Homo sapiens: one gene and its partner. The protein of the gene in region 2 interacts with the protein of the main gene of each other region in a biochemical or structural test. Each region holds a gene or a part of one and is shown on either strand. Other genes may lie near its edges.

Region 1 (3,819 bases), on a different chromosome or scaffold from region 2:
ACTACAGGAGCGCCCCACCATGCCAAGCTGATTTTATTTTTTGGGGGGTGGGTAGAGATGGGGATTGGTTGGGGGGGCAGGGCTCACTATATTGCCCAAGCAGGTCTTGAACTCCCGGCCTCAAGCAGTCCTTCTGCCTTGGCCTCCCAAAGTACAGGAATTGCCAGCATGAGCTGCTGTGCCTGGCCCTATTTTTGAGATTTCTGAACTGCTTTGTTTTGGATTGAATGATGGCATCTGTGGTCAAAAAGTTTCTAATATGTTTATAGATTACTTGTGTTAAATGTTACTTGTTTTTGCTTGTGATCATATAATATGTTTTCTGTTTCCTTTTTTTTCTAACCTTAGAATAATTGCAGTGAGTTATGAAGCTCGTGCATTTGGAGTCACTAGAAGTATGTGGGCAGATGATGCTAAGAAGTTATGTCCAGATCTTCTACTGGCACAAGTTCGTGAGTCCCGTGGGAAAGCTAACCTCACCAAGTAAGAAAAAAACATTATTTAAGGAGACATAAAGGAGTCGAAAATAATACTCCATGAGGCTAGGAACTGGTGTTTTGAATTTGTTCCATGTAAATAACACCGGAAAAAATTCTTTTTGGTTAGCCATCTTGTCTCTGTGAAATGAAAAACAGATTTTAATATTGTGTTTTGGGGACAGTTCAAAACCATTATACCATATAAGAGTTGCTGCCTTTGATATCTATTCAGTTCCTTAATTGTTCAAAATTGGTTGTTAAATTCAGACTTAATACCAATTCCCATGTTCTCCATCCAAAAATCTAAAGTATTTGAAAAATTGACTGTGAAACTGAGAATTTTTCCAGGAAAGGCTGAGTCAAACTGACATTGTAGTACAATATCAGGAATTAGTTGCTATAATTGAACAATATCAAGGGAGATTTCTCTGTTTTTAGATTAAGCTATCTCTCCGCAAATATTAGAAGTTTCACCTTGGAATGGGGGATATGAATCAGCATAGCTAAGTCAGAGGTAGGCACAAACCCCAGCCTTTAATCCTAACAGCTAATATGTATTAAACATATTATCACATGCCAGGCACAGTGTTAAGCTCTCTATAGGCAATATCTCTATTAAATCTGACATTGTTATAAGGTAGGTACTAATATTACTCCCCCTTCACAGATAAGGAATCAAGTTCAGAGAAGTTAAATAATTTAAGTTAGGCTGGGGATGGTGGCTCATGCCTGTAATCCTAGCATTTAGGGAGGCTGAGGCGGGCAGATCACTTGAGTCCAGGACACCAGCCTGGGCAACATAGGGACCAGCCTGGGCAACATGGGGAAACCCCATCTCTAACAGAAAATACAAAAATTAGCCAGGCATGGTGGCACACACTTGCAGTCCCGGCTACTCAGGAAGCTGAGTTGAGAGGATTGCTTGAGCCTGGGAGGCAGAGGTTGCAGTGGGCCCAGATCACACCACTGCACTCCGGTCTGGGTGACAGAGTGAGACCCTGTCTCAAGAAAGAGAAAAGTTCAGACAGCTAAGTGAAAGACTGAGGATTCACATCTGTTTTTTAAGATTCTAGTATCTATGTTCTCAAGGTACACTATACTATGTGTTGTGGTATAGGAATCATGCTTTGACTTAGGACCTGACATACTTCTGAATTCTAATTCTAATTCTATGAATTAGAAGTCTAAAGGTAGAGTGGCATACAGACCCACATTGGAATTATTGCTAGAAAAGAAGATAGACTTGACTGAAGATTAAGTTTTCCAAATACTCTTAAAAATACCTTGCAGTGATTTGCTCAAGAGGCTGTGAGGAAGCACTGAAATAGAGTATTGTTTTAGAAAAACTCAAACTATGGTTTTCCTCTCCTCTCACACCACAAGAACAATCAACACAGAAGACATCTGTGACCAAAGGTGTGGAAGTATTTCCCCACACACCAATCAGCAGACACCAGCTGCATGTCCTCGCACTCAATTCCAACACTGTCTACCTGGAGATGGCATCAGATTCCACATGTTGAGGGCTCAATACCACAAGAACACCCCCTCCTTCCTTTCCATCACAAGTCCAGGCCTTTAGAACGTCTGAACAGCTGGCTTTAAGTTGGGGTTCCTGCAACCCCCTCTTTGGATTTGATTAATTTGCTGAAGCGACTCACAGAACTCAGGAGAACACTTACTTATGTTTATTATAAGGGATATTACGAAGGATACAGATAGGTTGGGCATGGTGGCTCACGCCTGTAATCCTAGCACTTTGGGAGGCTGAGACAGGAGGATTGCTTGAGCTCAGAAGTTTGAGACCAGCCTGGGCAACATAGTAAGACCTCGTCTCTACCAAAATTAAAACAAAAACAAAAACAAAAAAATTTAGCTAGACATGGTGTTGTGCAGCTCTAGTTCCAGCTACTCAGGAAGCTGAGGTGGGAGGGTCGCTTGAGCCCAGGAGATTGTGGTTCCAGAGAGTCATGATCAAACCACTGCATGCAGCCTGGGCAACAGTGAGATCCTGTCAAAAAGAAGATGAAGATGAAGAGATATATAGAGCAAGGCATGTGAGAAGGGGTGCGGAGCTTTCATGCCCTCCCTGGGTGAGCCACCCTCCAGGAATCTCTACTATTACAGCTATTTGGAACCTCTCCGGACCCTGTCCTCTTGGGTTTTTAGGGAGGCTCCGTTATGTACTCATGACTGATTAAACCATTGGCTATGGGTAATCAACTTGACCTGCAGTATCTCTCTTCCTCTCCCCTCCCCAGAAGTTGAGGGGGTGGGGCCAAAAGTCCCAACCCTCTAATTATGCCGTGGTCTTTTTGGTGACCTGCCCTATCCTGAAGCTATTAGTTAACATTAGCATACAAAAAGACAAAACTTGGGTGATTCCAAGGATTTTTGGAGTTGTATGCCAGGAAACTGGGATGAAGACCGAATATATATTTCACAATATTATAAGTATCCTTTTCTGGCTGTGTGTATGAGTATATTGCTCTTTCTTTTCTTTTTTTTTTTTTTTTTGTGGGTGGGGGACGGAGTTTCACTCTTGTTGCCCAGGCTAGGGTGCAATGGTGCAATCTCGGCTCACCACAACCTCCATCTCTTGGATTCAAGTGATTCTCCTGCCTCAGCCTCCCGAGTAGCTGGGATTACAGTCATGTGCCACCGTGCTGGCTAATTTTATATTTTTAGTAGAAATGGGGTTTCTCCATGTTGGTCAGGCTGGTCTCGAACTCCTGACCTCAGGTGATCCACCCACCTCTGCCTCCCAAAGTGCTGGGATTACAGGTGTGAACTGCTGCGCCCGATCTTGCTCTTTATTTTCTTTGAGGCCTATCCTCTTCCTAGTTCAAATAATGATTTAAAAAAAAAAAAAGTCAAGTATTTCTCTAATTCTCTAATTTGAGAGTGTTTTAGAACAATAATTATATTAGTTTTTATGGGTGTCATGGTGAAGAGGTACCGATGTTTTCATTTTTATGGTAAATATAAAGTCAATAGGAACAAAGAACTGGACACTACAAAGCAGGTCCAAGCCAAAGGAAAGCAAATATCTGTATATTGGCCGGATGTGGTGGCTCACGCCGGTAATCCCAGCACTTGGGGAGGCCGAGGTGGGTGGATCACCTGAGGTCAGGAATTCGAGATCAGCCTGGCCAACATGGTGAAACCCTGTCTCTACTAAAAATACAAAAAAATTCACCAGGCGTGGTGGCAGGCGCCTGTAATCCCAGCTACTTGGGAGGCTGAGGCAGGAGAATTGCTTGAACCCGGGAGGTGGAGGTTGCAGTGAGGCGAGATGCCACTATTGCACTCCAGCCTGGGAGACAAGAGCGAGACTTCA
Region 2 (3,819 bases):
TGGGCTGTTTTTTGGTTCCATATGACTTTTCAGATTGTTTTTTCTAGTTCTGTGAAGAACGATGATGGTATTTTGATGGGAATTGCATTGAATTTGTAGATTGCTTTTAGCAGTATAGTTATTTTCACAGCATTGATTCTACCCATCCTTGAGCGTAGGTTGTGTTTTTCCATTTGTTTGTGTCATCTGATTTCTTTTAGCAGTGTTTTGTAGTTTTCCTTGTAGAGGTCTTTTACTTCCTTAGTTAGGTATATTCCTAGGTTTTGCAGCTATTGTAAAAGGGGTTGAGTTGTTGATTTGATTTGCAGCTTGTTTGCTGTTGCTGTATAGCAGTACTACTGATTTATGTACATTGATTTTGTATCCTGAAACCTAACAGAATTCATTTATCAGATCTAGGAGCTTTTTGGATGAGTTTTTAGGGTTTTCTAGGTATACAATCATATCATTTACTAACAGTGACAGGTTGACTTCCTCTTTACCAATTTGGATGCCTTTTAATTTCTCTTTTCTGACTGACTGTGGCTGGCTAGGGCTTCCACTACTATGTTGAATAGAAGTGGTGAAAGTGGGCATCCTTGTCTTTTTCCAGTTCTCATGGGGAATGCTTTCAACTTTTCCCCGTTCAGTATAACGTTGGCTGTGGGTTTGTCATGGATGGCTTTTATTACCTTCAAGTATGTTCCTTCTATGCTGATTTTGCTGAGTGTTTTCATCATAAAGGGATGCTGGATTTTGTCAGACGTTTTTTCTGCTTCTATTGAAGTGATCATGTGTTTTCGTTTGTTTTTCTCTTAGAGTTTCGCTCTTGTTGCCCAGGCTGGGGTGCAGTGGTACCATCTCAGCTCACTGCAACCTCCACCACCCAGGTTCAAGGGATTCTCCTGCCTCAGCCTCCCAAGTAGCTGAGATACCACATCTGGCTAATTTTTGTATTTTTAGATGGGGTTTCACCATGTTGGCCAGGCTGGTCTCAAACTCCTGACCTCAAGTGATCTGCCCTCCTCGGCCTCCCAAAGTGCTGGGATTACAGGCATGAGCCACCGCACCCGGCCTGATTTTTGTTTTTAATTCTGTTTATATGGTGTATCACATGTATTGACTTGTGTATATTAAACTTTCCCTGCATCCCTGGTTTGAAATCCATTTGATCATGGTAGATTATCTTTTTGATATACTGTTGGATTTGGTTAGCTAGTATTTTGTTGAGGATTTTTGCATCTATGTTCATCAGGGATATTGGTCTGTAGTTTTCTTTTTTGTCATGTCCTTTCCTGGTTTTGGTATTAGAGTGATACTGGCTTCATAGGATGATTTAGGGAGTATTCCCTCTTTCTCTTTTGGAATGGTTTCAGTAAGATTGGTACCAGTTCTTCTTTGAATGTCTGATAGAATTCAGCAGTGAATCCATCTGGTCCTGGACTTTTTCTTCTTGGCAATTTTTTTATTACCATTTCAATCTAAGTGCTTGTTATTGGTCTGTTCAGAGTTCTTATTTCTTCCTGGTTTAATCTAGGAGGTTGTATATTTCCAGGAATTTATCCATCTCCTCTAGGTTTTCTAGTTTGTGAGCACAAATGTGTTCATAGTAGCCTTGAATGATCTTTTGTATTTCTGTGGTATTCGTTGTTAATATTTCCTGTTTCATTTCTAATTGAACTTATTTGGATCTTCTCTCTTCTTTTCTTGGTTAATCTCACTAATGGGCTATCAATTTTGTTTATCTTTTCAAAGAACCAGCTTTTTGTTTCATTTATCTTTTGTATTTTGTTGTTGTTGTTTCATTTTTATTAAGTTCTACTCTGGTCTTTGTTATATCTTTCCTCCTCCTGGGTTTGGGTTTGGTTTGTTCTTATTTCTCTAGTTCTTGAGGTGTGACCTTAGATTGTCAATTTGTGCTCTTTCAGACTTTTTGATGTAGGCACTTAATGCTGTGAACTTTCCTCTTAGCACTGCTTTTGCTGTATCTTAGAGGTTTTGTTAGGTTGTGTCACTTTTTTCATTCAGTTCAAAGAATTTTTTTAATTTCCAGCTTGATTTTGATTTCATTATTGACCCAAAGATCATTCAGGAGCGGATTATTTAATGTTGCATGGTTCTAAGAATTCCCTTTGGAGTTGACTTCCAATTTTATTCCACTATGGTCTGAGAGAGTACTTGATATAATTTTGATTTTCTTAAATTTATTGAGACTTGTTTTGTGGCCTATCATATGGTCTCTATCTTGGAGAATGTTCCATGAATGTTCTGATGAATAGAATGTATATTCTGCAGTTGTTGGGTAGAATGTTCTGTAAATACCTGTTAAGTCCATTTGTTCTAGGGTATAAGTCCATTGTTTCTATGTTGACTTACTGTATTGAAGTCCCCCACTATGAGATGAGATTCTATTTTTGTGTATTTCAAGGTTTTGCTCTAAGATTTAGAACTCCTTTTAGCAGTTTTTGTAAACTATGCTGGCTTGGTAGTGGCAAATTCTCTCAGCGTTTGAAAAAGACTTTCATCTTTTCTTCATTTATGAAGCTTAGTTTCACTGGATACAAAATTCTTGGCTGATAATTATTTTGTCAGCTAATAATTATTTAATAAGGCTAAAGATAAGACCTTTATCCCCTCTAGCTTGTAGAGTATCTGCTGTTAATCTGATAGGTTTTTCCTTTACAGGTTACCTGATGCTTTTGCCTCCCAGCTCTTAAGATTTTTTCCTTCATCTTGACTTTAGATAGCCTGATGACTGTGTGTCTAGGTGATGATCTTTTTGTGATGAATTTCCTGGGTGTTCTTTGAGCTTCTTGTATTTGGATGTCTAGATCTCGAGCAAGGCCAGAGAAGTTTTTATTCTTTTGCCTTTGTCTTTGTTGAATTGGGTTAATTCAAGAGCCTTGTCTTTGAGCTCCAAAATTCTTTCTTCTACTTGTTTGGTTCTATTGTTAAAACTTTCCAGTGTATTTTGCATTTCTCTAAATGTGTCTTTCATTTCCAGAAGTCATGATTGTTTTTTATTTATGATATCTATTTCTCTGGAGATTTTTTTCGTCTACATCCTGTTTTGTTTTATTTTTAAATTTAAGTTGGTTTTCATCTTTCTCTGGTGCTTCCTTGAGTAGCTTAATAATTGACCTTCTAAATTCTTTTCTGGCAATTCAAAGATTTATTATTGGTTTGGATCCATTGCTGGTAAGCTAGTATAATCTTTTAGGGGTGGTTATAGAACCTTGTTTTGTCATATTACCTGAATTGTTTTTCTGGTTCCTTCTCGTTTGGGTGGACTATGTCAGAAGAAAGATCTGGGACTCAATGTGTGCTGTTTAAATTCTTTTGTCCCACAGAGTGATCCCTTGGTGTGGTGCTCTCCCCCTTCCCTAGGGGTGGGGCTTTCTGAGAGCTGGACTGCAGTGATTGTTATTGCTCTTCTGGGTCGAGCCACCCAGCAGAGCTACTGGGTTCTAGGCTGGTACTGGAGAGTGTCTGCTAAGAGTCCTGTGATGTGATCTGTCTTCAGGTCTGTATGCCATGGATACTAGCACCTGCTCTAATGGAGGTGGTAGGAAAGGAGTGAAGTGGACTGTGTGAGAGTACTTGGTTGTAGTTTTATTTAGTGTACTGGTTGTCTTGAATGCTAGTTATACTAGCACTGAAGTTATTACATGGACAGACTCAGGACCTCTCTGGTTGGCCAAGATGTTACAGGCAGTAGAATTAGCTGTTATTTTCTGCTTTCTTGGAGCAGGGTTGTTCTGTTGAATTGCTGTAATGGCTTGAATTGGTTGGCCTCCAGCCAGGAGGTGGCACTTTCAAGAGAGTATCAACTGCAGTAGT

The links.
Region 1: the proteins of DTL (region 2) and POLH form a complex in vitro, tested with the Homo sapiens proteins (one study listed by BioGRID).

Annotation. Positions count from the first base shown.
Region 1 is NC_000006.12:43,582,659-43,586,477, forward strand, and holds part of POLH (DNA polymerase eta), read left to right. Parts: intron 1-348; coding exon 349-483; intron 484-3,819. UniProt on the Homo sapiens protein: DNA polymerase specifically involved in the DNA repair by translesion synthesis (TLS). Due to low processivity on both damaged and normal DNA, cooperates with the heterotetrameric (REV3L, REV7, POLD2 and POLD3) POLZ complex for complete bypass of DNA lesions.
Region 2 is NC_000001.11:212,094,581-212,098,399, forward strand, and holds part of DTL (denticleless protein homolog), read left to right. Parts: intron 1-3,819. UniProt on the Homo sapiens protein: Substrate-specific adapter of a DCX (DDB1-CUL4-X-box) E3 ubiquitin-protein ligase complex required for cell cycle control, DNA damage response and translesion DNA synthesis.